Homo sapiens: one gene and its partners. The protein of the gene in region 2 interacts with the protein of the main gene of each other region in a pairwise test. Each region holds a gene or a part of one and is shown on either strand. Other genes may lie near its edges.

Region 1 (3,528 bases), on a different chromosome or scaffold from region 2:
ACACATTAATTTTATTAAGTCTCATTACTTCAGTACAAATCTTTTTAATATTCTGTGTAGTGAAATGGAAACTACATATTAACTACTTCTGTTGCATATCAAACTATGAGGGTTAGCTAGAGAAAAATCACTCAAGATGGGAGTTATAAGCTCAACTAGTCACTTTTTTCATGCGACACCATTTTTACTTGAATGACAACTATCAATCACGACTGAGTGTCTGAAAGATACTTTCTAGAAAATGAACAAAGTGAGGCTGTCATCTACAAAGGAAACAACTGAGCTTGTCAATGATAAAATGTGAGTTTTCAATAGAAAATTAGAATGTTGGAAAAGTTGTGTGTGACACTATGAACATAGTGCCTTCCCAAAATGTAAATGATTTTCTAATAACATCAGTGGTAATATTAATGAATGTAAGTTTTGGATATTGCATATGAAATACATCAACATTTAGTAGGTCTGCCCAACTCAATGAACCAACATTTTCTAAATGAGCAATGCCTGGTGTTATAAAATCATACATGGGTAAAATATTCATTCAATGAGCAAGATACACAAATAGATTTTAACAAAACAGGGTATAAAAAGCTCACTGATATGATTTAGCGTTCCATATTACAACAATTAACCTTTAATAAACTAATATTTATTGAATTTTGATGCAGTATATCAAAGAAATCTGCAATTATCTAAAAAGCTATTACAATACTCCTCTCTTTACAGCAACATACCGTCGTAAGGACAAATTTTCTTCATATACTTCAACCAAAACAACCTAACAGAACAGACTGAATGAAGAAGCAGGTGAGAATTCAGCTGCCATCTATTCGGCCAAACACAGAGATGTGCAAAAATGTGACAATGCCAGTTGTTGCAACAAAAATGTTAATGTTTTGGCATAGTTATTTTTCTTTTAAAAATATGCTATTTATGTTAACAAGCAATGAGTTTGTACTGCTATCTTTAGCTACCACTGCCTAATACTATAACTACTGATAACAGCACACAAAAGCAAAAGCTCTTTGAAATCAGTAATTTTTATGAGTAGAAAGGGTTACTGAGACTGAAAAATATAAAAACTGCTAGTGTAAGGACACATAAGTATCTATTTAATACTCTGCATAACACAATATTTGTGATGGAATACAATTTCACATAACATTGTTTTGTCTTTACTTTTTAAAAGAAAACCTATGAAAGACAGGTCACCCTGAATTTCAAAGAGCAAAGAAAATTGAGAAACATGGCCAGGCAGGGTGGCTCACATCTGTAACCCCAGCACTTTGGGAGGCCAAGGCGGGCGGATCACTTGAAGTCAGGAGTTCAAAACCAGCCTGGCCAACGTGGTAAAACCCTGTCTCTACTAAAAATACAAAAATTAGCTGGGCATGGTGGCACATGCCTGTAATCCCAGCTATTTGGAAGTCTGAGACAGGAGAACTGCTTGAACCTGGGAGGCGGAGGCTGCAGTGAGCCAAGATCGCGTCACTGCACTCCAGCCTGGGTGACAGAGCAAGACTCCATCTCAAAAAAAAAAAAAAGAAAACTGAGGAACACATCTTTATACCACTATTTTAACTAAAAACTACAGGAAAAACTGTGTTCTACAAAGATAGTAAGATCTAGTCCCAAACTGGTACCAACATATTCCTATCTCTTTTTACTTCAAAATTACTTTCTAGAAAATCATAATCACAAAATTAGATTTTATTAACTAAAGAAAAAAATAATTACCAAACCCATATCATCAGCTAAAATTCCTCCATGGACATTTTCTGGTCGGTCCTTCTCAGAAAAATTTGTTATTGTGTTATAGTATAAGTCATTTCGCTGTTCCCAGAATGGTGGAAGTTCTTTGCTATTTTCCCGTGACACCATCCAAGCTAGAGCTTGTTTTTGATGTGGAAGCAGTGGTGTTTCAATAGCCTATAAATAAAAAGTCATAAAGCGAAATACATTAAGCCATTCCTTTTTCACATGCAGATCCTGTGATTAAACAAAAAGTAGATTCTAAGTATATTTAAACATTCTGAGTAGTCTTAAATAAAAAATATTGGTTCAATACCTCAGCTGGTTCCATTTCATGGGTTTTATCATCTTCTTTTAAATCTTCAAACAATTTGTCAAATTCTGTTTTAAGCTACAATAAACAGCAACAAGAAACAATGTAAAACAAACTAATTAAAATAATACTTGCATTTAAGTCAGATTTGAAATCATTTAATTAACTGGCGTTAATGTCAAACGGGCCAGGAGTGGTGGCTCATGCCAATAATCTCAGCACTTTGGGAGACCAAGGTGGGAGGATCACTTGAGCTCAGGAGTTTGAGACCAGCCTGGATAACATAGTGAGAGATCCCATCTCTACAAAAAAATTTTTAAAAAATTAGCCAGGCATGGGGGTGCATGCCTGTAGTTCTGGCTCCTAGGGATGCTGAGATGGGAGGATCACTTCAGCCTAGTAGGTAGAGGATAGAGTGAACCATGATTATGCCACTGCACTCCAGCCTGGGCAAGAAAGTGAGACCCTGTCCCAAAAAATTAAGAAATTGAAATTAAATTAAATTTAAAAACCACAAACTAGTCAAACGCCAAAAAGGCACATAAATCAACTCTAGAATTACACTACTCACTGAAGAGCGAATGAACAGGTGCTTTAGTTGTTAGGAGGTAAAAGAATATAAAAGAATTTTAAGTCCCGAGTTTCAGTCACAGTTTTATCACAAATAAGCTTATATGTAAGTTTCAGCAAGACTTGACCTTTATGGCCCCATGTCTTATTCCTATAAAATGAAAGGGATGAACTAAATTTAGATTGTCTCTAAGGTTCCTTCTGCCATTAAAATTCTGTGATGCTATCAGTTGTATTCAAAATATTTTCTCAGTCCTACCAGGTCAATGACATTCCATTTATTATTACTGCAATAAGGAACTTGCCATGCACTATAGGATACTTTTATTATTATGCTAACTTAATTGACTATTTAAACTAGGTTAGTCCAATTTTATATCAACATATATGTGATACAGATATTTTTGAAAATTAACACATGAACACAGCAGCAGCTCAGAAGAAATCAGGCCAGGTCTAAAAAATCAGAAGTAACCGGGGGCTTATCTACCAGAAACAAGCTCAAGTCCTTCTAACAATAAGCAGGGTAAATATGGTAACTACAATTAGTAGATAAAAGGACTAACACTGGTAGATACAAACATCAAAAAAGTTTTAATGTTATTTTTAAATTGATCTGCATTAATTACTTTATATACTTTTTTTTCAAAGAAATTCAGCATAACTCATCCTAAATTACAAATTAGACAATGTGAAGAATTTGGAGTTAAATCTTTAGCACTGCATTTGCAAAATTACTGAAAGGAGTTAAGTCTCAGCTTCAATTTTTTTCTTAAAATTACTACTTGAACATTTAAAACATTTCAGATACAAAAATATGCCGTGCATAAACAGGAACGTGTGTGTTTTGTATGTTGGGTACAAATGTTCACGTATGGATTTATTCCTTATCA
Region 2 (3,500 bases):
GCTACTCGGGAGGCTGAGGCACAAGAATTGCTTGAACCTGGGAGGCAGAGGTTGCAGTGAGCCAAGATCACGCCACTGCACTCCAGCCTGGGTGACAGAGGGAGACTTTGTCTCAAAAAAGAAAGAAAAGAAAATTCTTAGGTGTTCCTAGTTGACTGTATTAGCTTTATCAGCCATGTTTTTTTTTTCCTCTTTACCTAGAAAACAATGTTGGGCTGACTTACTGACAAAAGAAATTTAACGAGAGTTGACTCTGTTGTAAAGCTTCAGAGAGCAGTAGGTCTAGAGTTCCTGGGGGAGCAAAGCTGAAAAGATAGAGGCACTTAAGAGCAGTCCCCAGTGAAGTTACTATTAGGCATTACTGACTTGGGCTTTCCTCAAGTACAGCAGGGAAACAGAAGCAGGCAGTCAACTTGAACAAGCCAGTCCTGGCTTAGGTTGTGTTCGGCTTCCAGCTCCGGTGCCATCTCTTCAATTAATTGAGCTAAAAATAAATGTCATTAACATCCAAGCTGTCCCCTCCCCCTAATACTTGGTTGGGTTTATGAAAGAGAGGAGCAATTTTGGTATTTGACGTTTTCCATATATTATTTTCAGACCTTCCACTGTCTGGAAGCACCCCTTATTCTCTTCCTGTTCTTTGGAAGAGTTGTGTAGTCTTAAGAGAATTTGACACTCCTTGGGGGTTTGATACAGAACTGGATCCCCAATAGCCCCACCACATGGCCTCTAACCAGATGGCTTCAGTCACCTGTGTCCCTTTATGCTCAACTTCCCTCTCCCCTCACTAACTCCATCACCACCCATAAACAAGCTCTTTGAGATCCACGGAGATTAACATTTAGACAACTTTGGAGCTAATTGCTTACCTAATTTCTTTTGTTTTGATTGTCGTAACTGTTTCTAGTACAAAGAAAATCCCTTCAAAGTTACATAGCTTGCTATTACCTGTTCTTTTGCCCCCCCCCCTTGATTTGAGGATTAGGCAATTGACTGATTTCTGGTGAAATCAGAACATGAGCATGAGACAGAGGCTGGGAAATTCCAGAGTATTAATAGTGAAAGAGAAACTTATGGTGAGTCACTTATGGTGGTGTTGCCGGGCCCCAGGGTACTTGTTCCCTATTCTTTCTCTGCCTCACCCTCCATTCCTTCTGATGTGTTTACAGTACATGGACTGGACCTGCCTGGAGCCCAGCCCAGAGCATCTCCTCAGTGCTCATCTCTATCCAGTCCCTGATGACTGAGAACCCCTATCACAATGAGCCCGGCTTTGAACAGGTAAGGCCAGATGGGCCTGGCTCTGGGGTGTAGACTATTGTTTTTGTTTGTTTGGTTGGTTGGTTTTTTTGTTTTTTTTTTTTTTTGAGACAGAGTCTTCCTCTGTCACCTAGGCTGTAGTGCAGTGGTGCAATCTCAGCTTACTGCAACCTCCGCCTCCCGGGTTCAAGCCATTCTGTCTCAGCCTCCCAAGTAGCTGGGACTACAGGCGTGTACCACCATGCCTGGCTAATTTTTATATTTTTAGTAGAGATGGGGTTTCACCATATTGGCCAGGCTGGTCTCCAGCTCCTGACCTGGTGATCCGCCTGCCTCGGCCTCCCAGAGTGCTGGGATTACAGGCGTGAGCCACCGCGCCCAGCCAGAATAGTGTTTTAAGAGATCTGCTTGGGAGGTTTTTTTTGTTTTGTTTTGTTTTGTTTTGTTTTGGACCTAGCACAGCCCCATGTACTACATTTGTTGGTATAGGGAAAAAAAGGGAATTGACACGTGTTTTTTAGTAATGAAATTTTTTGCCGACCACTGTGGCTCACACCTGTAATCCCAGCACTTTGGGAGGCTGAGGCAGGCAGGTGGATCACCTGAGGTCAGGAGTTTGAGACCAGCCTGGCCAACCTGGTAAAACCCCATCTCTACTAAAAATTAACTGGTCAGAAGTTTGAGACCAGCCTGGCCAACATGGTGAAAACCTGTCTCTACTAAAAATAAAAGAAATTAGCTGGGTGTGATCACTTGAACCCTGGAGGCAGAGGTTGCAGTGAGCTGAGATCACGCCATTACACTCCAGCCTGGGTAAGGAGCGAAACTCGGTCCCCCCACCCCCAAAAAAATAATAATGGCCAGGCGCGGTGGCTCACACCTGTAATCCCAGCACTTTGGGAGGCCGAGGCGGGCAGATCACAAGGTCAGAAGTTTGAGATCATCCTGGCTAACACAGTGAAACCCAGTCTGTACTAAAAATACAAAAAATTAGCTGGGTGTGGTGGCAGGCGCCTGTAGTCCCAGCTACTCGGAGGCTGAGACAGGAGAATGGCGTGAACCCAGGTGGTGGAGCTTACAGTGAGCCAAGATTGGGCCATTGCATTCCAGCCTGAGCGACAGAGCGAGACACCGTCTTAAAAAAATAATAATAATAATGAATTTTTTTATTTGTGAGAGTTACAATAAGTATGTGACTTGGATTCCTTTATAGCATGGAAGTCAATGGACTCCTTTGGAAATTAATTCTGACCTGCTTTGGGGGTTGTGGCATCCAGTGGGTTCTATGTGCCTATATTCTCAGCATCCCCTAAAGTTGCTCTGTAGGGACTACTACCCAGCCAGCTGTTCTTCTGGGGTTATGAAGGACTGTTACCTGCAGAGTCAAAGGAGCTAGTCATTAGGAGTCCCGGGCAAGACTTTTTGAGTTAACAGTGCCAACGAGAAGGTGGAGAAAACTCACATTTTTCCAAGAGCATGCTCTGTGCTGGACACTACCAAGTTTTTATATATAATTTCTTGTTTAACCTTCATACTATGTGAGGTTAAATATGGTTATTCCCATTTTCAAGTGAAATAATGTTGCCTCAGAGAGGTTAATTAACTTTCACAAAGACACACAGATCAGGATAGGACCCCAGACTTACATTGGAGCCCAACTTCTCCCACTCTTCCGATGTGCCTTCCTGAATTACTCATGAGCACGGGAAAAAGTTCCAGTGATAGTCCCAAAAGAAAATGATTCCGGATAGGTGATTAGAACAGCTTAATTAATTTATTTATTTTTTGAGACAGAGTTTCACTATTGTTACCCAGGCTGGAGTGTAATGGCACAATCTCGGCTCACAGCAACTTCTGCCTCCCAGGTTCAAGTGATTCCTCTGCCTCAGCCTCCCGAGTAGCTGGGATTACGGGCACGCACCACCACACCTGGCTAATTTTTTGTATTTTTAGTAGAGAAGGGGTTTCACCATCTTGGCCAGGCTGGTTTCGAATTTCGGACCTCAGGTGATCCACTCGCCTTGGCCTCTGAAAGTGCTGGGATTACAGGCGTGAGCAACCATGCCTGGCCAACTTAATTTATTTTTAAACTATTACATATGACACCAACTTTGATTCTTCCTCTATAGACCTGAACAAAGGATAATAAAATGCCTTTCAAAAATGAAAAATAAAAATTTTTTTTGAGACAGAGTCTCACTCCATCACTCAGGCTGGAGTGCAGTGGTGTGATCTCGGCT
Region 3 (2,260 bases), on a different chromosome or scaffold from region 2:
CTACTCAGGAGGCTGAGGTGGGAGGATCACCTGAGCCTGGGAGGTTGAGGCTGCAGTGAACTGTGATTGTGCCACTGCACTCCAGCCTGGGAGACAGAGGGAGACCCTGTTGCAAAAAGAAAAAAAAAAAAAAGAAAGAAAGAAAAAGAAAGAAAAGAAAGAAAGTGCCTTTGCAGCCAAAAGTCAAAAGCTAGCAATTTGGCTGGTAGCGTTTAAACGTGGGTAGGAACGGAAGGTAGTGGTCGCTGGTTATTTGCTGTGAGTACACTGTATAGATAGATTTCCATTTACTCGTTCACTTTCCTACTTATGGCCTTTAGGCTGTGCCCAGGTTAGAGACTGTGAGAAAAGCTGCAGTGATCTCATTCTTTCTAGAGTCTTCCTGTGCCCCATGAGAAGGCATATGCCTAGGGAAGGAACTGCTGGATCTGAGGCTTGGCGATGTTCCTGCTTTAGAAAGTCATGCCAAACAGTTTTCTAAAGTGTTGGTGCAAATTTACACTCTCAGAACCAGGAAGAAGAGATTGTTTTTTTTTTTTAATTTTATTTTACATGAAAATCTTCCATCCTCTCCATACATCCCATGCTATCCTCCATTCCCCACCCTGCTTGGCCCAGGCTATGCCTAGAAGCAAGTCAAAGGCAGGTAGAAGCTTGGGCTGAGGCTGCCTGAGATGCCTCAAGCACTCTGGTCCACAGAGACAGTCAACAAGTGACCGTGGTCTCCAGGCCCAGAAAGAGTCTGACCACATCTGATCATGGCTATAAACAGGAGCCTGGCAACAGGAGCAGGACCTGCTGACAGGATCAGTGGGCTGGTCATGTCAGCTCCCAGTCGTAGGAGTGGGGCAGGGTGAGGGCAGGAAGAGCAGTCTCTGGGTGCCACACTCACCCTCACCTGTTTGTCTGCCCTTACACCTCAGGCTGGTCCCGAAAGTGGGGCTCTGTCCACAAAACCCCTGCCTGGACAGTCCTTGACCTACAAGTTGCAGGCATGTGTCTGGCCATTGGTCAGACTCACTGTTCTCACGACCACAGGAAGGTGTCCAGCTTGGCCTGGAAGAGAGAAGGCACTGTCTTCACCCTCACCCTCTGCTTAACCTTGGTCTTGGGCTTAACAGGCAATGGGCGGATCATGACTGTGTCAGTCTGGAGGAGCTGTCAAGGAAGAGGCATGGAGAAAGGACTGCAATGCAGGGCGAGAAAGGACTGCAATGCAGGGCAAGAAAGGCTCAGAGCCGGGGGTGGGCGGCGCTGATACACAGAATGAGGCCCAGCACTGCACACCTGAGGCTGTTGGCACTGGCAGGCTGGGGGTATAGGTGAGGCATAGTATGGGCTCCACAGTTCAGCTCAGCTCAACATCACAGGAAAAGGATACAGGCTGGATGAATTTTGTCCGGCCACCGAGCCCATCGAAGCCTGTCCTTACCTAGGGTGGAAGGAAGAGATGAGTGGGCCAGGCTAATGGGCTGGGGGGCTGGCCACCCATTTCTACCCAAGAGGGCTGGCTCCTGCCACTGTGGGAAGCCACACTCACCACATCTTTGCTGCAAGAGGACTCTGACCTGGGCCTCTTGGGCTGTTTCTGGCCTAGGATGGCATTCCGGACAAAAATAGGGAAGGCACCAACCAGTTCCTCATCTGGCTCTCCTGCACAGCTCTGGCCACCCAGTGAGAGCTGGGACTCCTGCAGGGAAGACCCCAGGGCCAGACTTGATGAGCTGGATGTCAGCAAAGGAGGGAGGGTAGTGGTGGTGGAACAAGATCAGGATCTCTGATGCCTCACTAGGAGGCAGGAGGGATAATGAGTAGAATCCCAAGGGTGGCTCCGAAGTACCTCAGTCCTGGACCAGGAGTGACAAGGCTCTGGCAAGACCGTGCCCTCCCAAAAGTCCAGTCCTGCCAAAGGTTAGACTGTGCTTCTTCTAGAAAGCTCTTACCTTCCTGGGGCCTTTGCATATCTTCTTGGGGACATCCTGAATTGGGGAGCTACAAGAATGAGAGAGAAGGCAAGGGGTAGGTAAGCAAGACATGGGGGCAGGTGAACCAGGCTCAGCACACGCCCCTTGGGGAGTTACCATGTGGCACTGCTGCTGCCATGCCTGCATTCTGGGCAAGGCACCTCAGTGATCCCACCCCAAGTGCAGGTCTGTTAACAGCTGGACAGCCACAGCCAGTAGGGTGGCAGAGACAGGGATGACTGGGGATGACTGGACCATGTCCCAATCCTGTGGCTTCCACTCAAGGCCAAATTCCA
Region 4 (3,528 bases), on a different chromosome or scaffold from region 2:
CTTCGGACTTAGAAACATCTTCCAAGTTCCCTTTTTCCTGTATAATGCTGAATCTGTTTCTTAAAATAGTCAACTCTTTTTATTGTTCTTCACATTACAAAAGTAACACTCAGAAAACCAAGACATGTTTTTAGAAAATGGTAATTCTCCTTCCCCCACTCCATAGACACCATCTTTCTTTGTACTCTGACAGAAATGCATATTTTAAGTAGGATTACAATAAACACATTATTATCCAAGGTTTCAACAATGGGAATGACATCTGAATACTCACCTACTTTCACTCCTACAACTGCAAATCTCCAAAGTTCTGAAACTCGACTTGCCTTAAACTAGAATCAGCTTTTCCTTGTGATTTGCTATTTCAGTTGAAGGTACCATTATTGTTCTTTTAGAGATACTCCCAACCCAGCCCCACATGCTCAAACTTTGCCAATTAGTTGCCAAATTCTTCTAACACCTCTATCTCCCTTTTCTGTGACACCAATCAATCAGTCTGTCTCAAAAAACCCTCATCTTGTCCAAATCCATTTACAAGCCATCACCAAATTGCCTTTCTTCATTCCCTGCTCAAAATACTTCAGCGGCTCTGAAATTACTATCAACTAAAATCTACATTCTTGCTCCTGGCATTCAAGAACCCAATTTGCTTTACAGTAATATTCCTCCTAACACACACACATCAGTGCTCCAGACTTGGATTCCCCAAACACATTCCTTTCTCCACTATAGCTACAGCAGTGTTTACATTCTTTTTGCTTGGAATGATGTCCCCAACCTCCCAATCCCTGACTATTCAAATCCTACCTATCCTAGAAACCTACTTTCTTTGATAGAAACTGTTCTTTCAGCATACCTGCAGAACTTAGTGAAACATTTAACACTCATATATCACCTGATATTGTAGTCTGCAGTTATCTAAGTATAATCTACCCTATTACACATGTATCTATAACAGAAAGCAAAGATCCTACCCTGTCCATCTATGGATTCTACAATATTTTGTACAAAATAAGTACAATTAGTATTCATTAGGAAATGTCTGTCACATCTGGATGTTTTTAAAGGCAACCACAAAATATAGCCTGCTTGAAAAATAAAATCTATGTTTCAGACAATGAGAAACCATACCCTGGAGTACAGAAAAAGTGACAAACTCCAAATTAAAAATCCATCTTGGCTGGGTGTGGTGGCTCACAATGGTAATCCCAGCACTTTGGGAGGCTGAGGCGGGTGGATCACTTGAGGCCAGGAGTTCAAGACCATGTCAACATGGTGAAACCCTGTCTCTACCAAAAATATAAAAATATGCCAGGGTGGTAGCACGTGCCTGTACTCCCAGCTACTCAGGGGGTTGAGGTGGGAGAATCGCTTGAACCCGGGAGGCATTGCAGTTAGCTGAGATCGCACCACTGCATGCCAGCCTGGGTGACAGTGAGACCCTGTCTCAAAATACATAAATAAATAAATATTAAATAAAATAAAAATCCATCTATCCACCTTATTTCAGCAGGTAATCAAGACATTGCATATTATTACAGTAGACGCATTTCACAATCCACTGCACATATAAGCAAGGGCTAGTTCATTTAAGTGATGACTCTGTCCAGGGATTTAAAATGTATTCTGTGCCAAAATGTCAAGTCATCTGTGAAAAGGAAAACAAAAGGACACAATAAAGTAGAAGACATATAAACCTCTAAATACAAACCACCTGATTCCCCAAGAAAATGGGCCACTAATAATCCCCCAAAGAGTTGTGAGCTCAGAACAGGCTCTTTTAAATATATATATTTTTAATATATATATTTTTAAATATATATATATTTAAATAATATATATATATTTTTAATAGATATATTTTTAAATATATATATATTTAAATATATATATATATTTTTAATATATATATTTTTAAATATATATATATTTAAATAATATATATATATTATATATATATATATTTTTTTTTATATTTTTTTTAATGGAGTTTCGCTCCTGTTGCCCAGGCTGGAGTGCAATGGCGTGATCTTGGCTCACTGCAACCTCTGCCTCCCAGGTTCAAGCGATTCTTCTGCTTCAGCCTCCCAAGAAGCTGGGATTACAGGTATGTACCACCACTCCCAGCTAATTTTGCATTTTCAGTAGAGACAGGGTTTTTCCACGTTGGTCAGGCTGGTCTCAAACTCCTGACCTCAGGTGATCCACCCGCTTCGGCCTCCCAAACTACTGCGATTATAGGCGTGAGCCACTGCGCTCGGCCCTGAAAAGATTTTTTTATTAGAAACTTCTTCCATGGAAGGTAACAAGAAAATGGAATTAATTCAGCCTACCAGATGCCATATGTAATCTTACATTCTCTACATGGAAAACCACCTTATTTTCCTGAGACAAAACTTCAGAAACTTTAAAACAAATCTTCTAAGTTGGGTCAAAACCAAAACAAAATAACTCTAGTTCTACTTTATGCCACTTAGAGGGGAGAAAGTCAAGCAGGAACTGTAAATTATTTTTGTCAACTTGCTATTCACAAAGTAGTAAATTAATCTTCAGTAACTATTCATGAGCTTTGCCATAATTTTATAACTAATTTTTAAAATTCTAATAACTTTTTTCCTGAAGCTTGTTTTTACTACACACAAATGAAGAAATTATTTGGGTTTTAGAAACATTTCTAGTGAAAAAGTGCCATTTTGCTTTATGCAAATGTATCAAAGAAAAAAAGGGGAAGGCATCAGATAGACAAATAATGTAGTAAGACTACAACCTCAAAATTTGGATGTATCCCAGCAAGTAACAATCTGACAATACTCTATCCTGATTAAAATCACACCCCCCAAGATGTAATAGTGAGTTAACATTTCAAGAATAGTATATGTTTGTTTTAATTCCTACCCAAAGTTTGTAGGTATATGGGGTTCATAGATTTTCCTTTTATAGTCACGTTCCTACCTATGGAATTTGGGAAGAATCTGCTCTCATTTTAAAAACCAATATCCTAAGTAACAAGTCTCCAAAGTAATCATCTTTCTCATGGCCTTTGCAGAATAATATCAAAGTTTCACTGCATTTTTACATTAGACATGAAAGCCTTTCTTGGTATTTAAACTGTAGGTCTAAGAAAATATAAAAGTCCAGAGACAGTTTCTCATTAGGATTTGGAAGTGACTTGCACAAGTAATCAAGACTGTATATAAATGCTGCTTTATAAAAAATTTTGAGAACAGAATTTACTGAAATCACAACTCAGAGATCTCAGTCCAATTCTCCAGTGATTAAGAGAGTTCACTAGAGTTTTCAAGGTAGCCAAAAAGAGGCAGGTATCCAAATCAATTCAGGAACTTTGAAACTATATATGAACTCAACTCATGAAAGAGTTCAGGCCTTTTCAATTTGGATTACCAAAAACAGGCAAATAAAAACAAAAGAAAAAATAAAAACTTACTATACATGTTACATAACAAAGTGTTTCACTCTTTTATGTGTAAAGTCTATTCATACCCTTACCCTCTTTTGGAAACTTATGAC
Region 5 (3,528 bases), on a different chromosome or scaffold from region 2:
AAATAATCACTGATGAATAAAGGAACAACACATAATGTCAATAAGTAGGTTACTGATAAAAGTTCACAGATGCTCACTTACACACATGGATGTAACAAAGGAGGAAGACACTTTTTAAAAAGCAACATATTCATGCCTATAAGATGAAAGATCTAAGGATAATTTAGTGACTATATAATAACTGTTACCACTTATTTGTAAAGAAATACGGAGATTCCATTCTGGACGAATTTCATTCTACCTCTGCGCAAATGGTTTTGAAATATCCCACTTTTCTCTTCCTTTCTTTCCTCTCTATTTTAGACTATACTTTCTTCTACTTTCTAATACCTTCCCACATCCACTTCAACTGGGATTAAAAAAACATATTACAGTCTAGCATAATGCCTGCCACATAAGTGTTTAAGAAATGGTGGCAAAATAAATGGTTATGGCAGGAAAGATTATGGAAGGAAGTACTGAGGCAAGGAAGGAAAGGACCATTCCAATTCAAGCTCTGTATAAACACTATGAAAATATAAGCTAAAATTATCTGGGATGCTTTAAGTACAGCACATGCAACAAATTAAAGGCCCAGAATAAGTTCTTCTAACTCAAATATTAATGAGAGCTTATACTTCCTGGAGATCTTTAAGAGATTCTGTTGAAGATTCACTGGGTATTGAGGTCCCATCTTTATTAATTTCTGCAAACTGTATCTCAGGGTGTGATTTCACATTTATATTGTACTCCATGAGAGGTGGACTTAGTTCTTCTTCCTCATTCTGTAACTCTTCTATTTCAATACCTAAACATAAAAGACAAAATTCTCAAAATCTAGATGAAAGCAATTTCAGCTTCTTATCAATGTTATAATGTTTGCCCAAAAAAGCAACATTCACAAAACAGAAATAAAATATATCTTACTCTTTTCAATTACTCGATGAAAATGTGATGTTCATTTATCAGTTACCAAATAATATGTACAAACACCAGCCTGGAACTAATCAGTGTGAACCTGAGTGCTATGTTACCTACTGGAATCTTAGGTAGACTCTAGATATTAGATACTCTAGAACATAAGTAGACTCTAAATACTAACTTTTTGCATGTCCTGACCTTGATCCTATTAATAATGCAACTAGTATTATTTTAGCACATATATCTGAAATATAAAGAAAAAGAAGACAAAAGATCTATTTTTTCTGTTTTCTTTTTCATAAGAGGGGTGTGAGCCCCCTATTATGTGACCTTTTCTTTGAGACTTTGCTCCTTGATATTGCCCCAGAGACTCAGTCTCAAAACTTGTGGACTTTGTCTGACTGGTCTCCAGAGAGTCCAGCATTTTATCCCAAACAAATCTGTGGTGGTGTTTTTTTTAAGTATAATTTTAATTGAATAATATTAATTACACTTAAAAAAAATAGCACAAAAATGGAAATTAAACAATTACAACTTATCACCTGGCAAAAAAAGTATATAGCTATAAACAATAGACAGACTAAATAAAGTTATACACGCTAAACACCAAACAGAGAAAGCAGGAAGGTATTTTTGCCTGCTGAAGTTTTTGTGAGTAAAACGTTAGAACATCATCCTTGGGAAAACCCTGAAGCACATGCACTAAGCCAAAGGCAGAATAAAGCTCATTCTCGATTCAGCCAGACCAGTGGTGATTTGATCACATCATTTTCCAAGTTCTTTTTTTTTGAGACTGAATCTCGCTCTGTCGCCCAGGCTGGAATGCAGTGGCGTGATCTTGGCTCACTGCAACCTCTGCCTTCCATGTTCAAGCAATTTTCCTGCCTCAGCCTCTTGAGTAGCTGGGACTACAGGCACCCGCCACCACACCTGGCTAATTTTTGTATTTTTAGTAGAGACGGGGTTTCACCATGTTGGCCAAGATGGTCTCGATCTCCTGACCTTGTGATCCACCTGCCTCAGCCTCCCAAAGTACAGGGATTATAGGCGTGAGCCACTGCGCCTGGCCCAAGTTCTTCACAATTATAGTTTATCATTTAGTTTATCTGAACAAATAAAAATTTCATAGGTATCCCTTGTTAAAAAGTCATTTACACATTTTATTTCTAAATATACTTACGCTGACTGCCTGTTATTGACTGTAGAGCAATTCCTATAATACATAAAGAAAAATTTTAGATGTACAATTGCAAACGCAACAAATGAATGTCTGGCTAGGATTAAGGCAGAATATTTTTATATTGCACCAATTTATTCTGTAAGTAACTGGAAAAATAACCAGCTTTGCTCATCAATCCAGTTTAGACAAGGCACAATCTTTAGATTATCACATAAAGGTTATAAACCCATGATTAGAGAAAAAAAAGTAAACAAAAATGTGGTATCACAGATAAAGCCTAGAACACAAGCACTTTAAACCAAGCAACGAATATTTATGTTTACCATCTAAGGCCATGAAATAATAGTTAATTACACAGCAAACCTCCACTGAAAGTTGGGACCTATTTTTAGCAATCTGATTTATCTGATCATCACTTGCTCTCCTTGCCCATTAATATTTATTGAGCACCTACAATGTACATCAGGCTGTGTTAAGCTCTAGAGATTGAATGGTGAAGAAAAAAAAAGACAATCTTCATGGAGATTTAGTGGGATGATGGATGTTAATCAAATTATCAGATATCCAAATAAAAAGCAACTAGAATAGCTGAGGAAAGAAATATAAGATGGTAAGAAAGCCTCTAGTAAAGGGACTTGACCAATAAGCTCTTCAGTGTACTTGAGTAAGAACTGCTTAAAATGCTTTGAATTGAATGGGTGCTCAAAACTCTTTCTCAAATACTCTATTCTCATGAATTATTTAAAATCCTAATAGAGTAAATGTATTTTTTAAAACCCTAATTTATAAGTCAAAAATTCTTGCCTGACTTTCTTATATATCAAACTCAGTGTCCTCCTCTTTCATTCTTAGATTATGCAAGAAAACAAAGGTATTCCAGAGCCTTAGTAAATACCAGGACTGAAATTGGGCACATCAATTATCTCTGAAGAAAATCTGGACCAGTTCACTAGAAACTTTTACAGTTGTATGTTTATATAGCATCAGTGTGGTTATCAGTTGTTCATTAGGCTGTAAATAACTTGAGACCAGGAAGTCATCCTGAATAGCACAGCAGGGTTTCAGAGATGTTGTCATGCCTTGAACTCTGCTTTCCAAAAGAATAGCTGAGAAGGTATCCTGAGATGTGGGAAAGGAGGTCTGAAGTCTTTTCCGTATCAATAGACAAGTTTGGGAGTGGCCAATACAAACACTTGCATGAATGTTACCTGATTTTTAAAATTATCTACAGCCAATGAATAGCTGCTAAAATTGTAAACTAAACAAGATTCTGCTAGAAAGTAGAAGAAACATACATCCACACTGTGTCTAAACGAACATCTTTGAAACCACACAGTACTTACATGTCATGGTTTTAAACTTTATTAATTTTGGAGAATAAAACTCCACTTAAAGTGATAAAACTGTACTCAAAAGTCTTCAACAATTTCTTTCTGAAAAATGCAGAC

Evidence for each region.
Region 1: the proteins of UBE2Z (region 2) and HLTF interact in a two-hybrid assay, tested with the Homo sapiens proteins (one large-scale study listed by BioGRID and IntAct).
Region 3: the proteins of UBE2Z (region 2) and TRAIP interact in a two-hybrid assay, tested with the Homo sapiens proteins (one large-scale study listed by BioGRID and IntAct).
Region 4: the proteins of UBE2Z (region 2) and RNF139 interact in a two-hybrid assay, tested with the Homo sapiens proteins (one large-scale study listed by BioGRID and IntAct).
Region 5: the proteins of UBE2Z (region 2) and DZIP3 interact in a two-hybrid assay, tested with the Homo sapiens proteins (one large-scale study listed by BioGRID and IntAct).

What each region holds. Positions count from the first base shown.
Region 1 is NC_000003.12:149,069,515-149,073,042, forward strand, and holds part of HLTF (helicase-like transcription factor), read right to left. Parts: intron 2,144-3,528; coding exon 2,069-2,143; intron 1,930-2,068; coding exon 1,738-1,929; intron 1-1,737. UniProt on the Homo sapiens protein: Has both helicase and E3 ubiquitin ligase activities. Possesses intrinsic ATP-dependent nucleosome-remodeling activity; This activity may be required for transcriptional activation or repression of specific target promoters.
Region 2 is NC_000017.11:48,914,907-48,918,406, forward strand, and holds part of UBE2Z (ubiquitin-conjugating enzyme E2 Z), read left to right. Parts: intron 1-1,169; coding exon 1,170-1,281; intron 1,282-3,500. UniProt on the Homo sapiens protein: Catalyzes the covalent attachment of ubiquitin to other proteins. Specific substrate for UBA6, not charged with ubiquitin by UBE1. May be involved in apoptosis regulation.
Region 3 is NC_000003.12:49,828,077-49,830,336, forward strand, and holds the end of TRAIP (E3 ubiquitin-protein ligase TRAIP), read right to left. Parts: intron 1,993-2,260; coding exon 1,944-1,992; intron 1,691-1,943; coding exon 1,541-1,690; intron 1,433-1,540; coding exon 1,382-1,432; intron 1,150-1,381; coding exon 1,027-1,149; 3' UTR 525-1,026; downstream 1-524. UniProt on the Homo sapiens protein: E3 ubiquitin ligase required to protect genome stability in response to replication stress.
Region 4 is NC_000008.11:124,481,380-124,484,907, reverse strand, and holds part of RNF139 (E3 ubiquitin-protein ligase RNF139), read right to left. Parts: intron 1,649-3,528; exon of another isoform or gene 1,501-1,648; intron 1-1,500. UniProt on the Homo sapiens protein: E3-ubiquitin ligase; acts as a negative regulator of cell proliferation through mechanisms involving G2/M arrest and cell death.
Region 5 is NC_000003.12:108,645,202-108,648,729, reverse strand, and holds part of DZIP3 (E3 ubiquitin-protein ligase DZIP3), read right to left. Parts: intron 2,114-3,528; coding exon 2,081-2,113; intron 788-2,080; coding exon 618-787; coding exon of another isoform or gene 612-617; exon of another isoform or gene 1-611. UniProt on the Homo sapiens protein: E3 Ubiquitin ligase proteins mediate ubiquitination and subsequent proteasomal degradation of target proteins.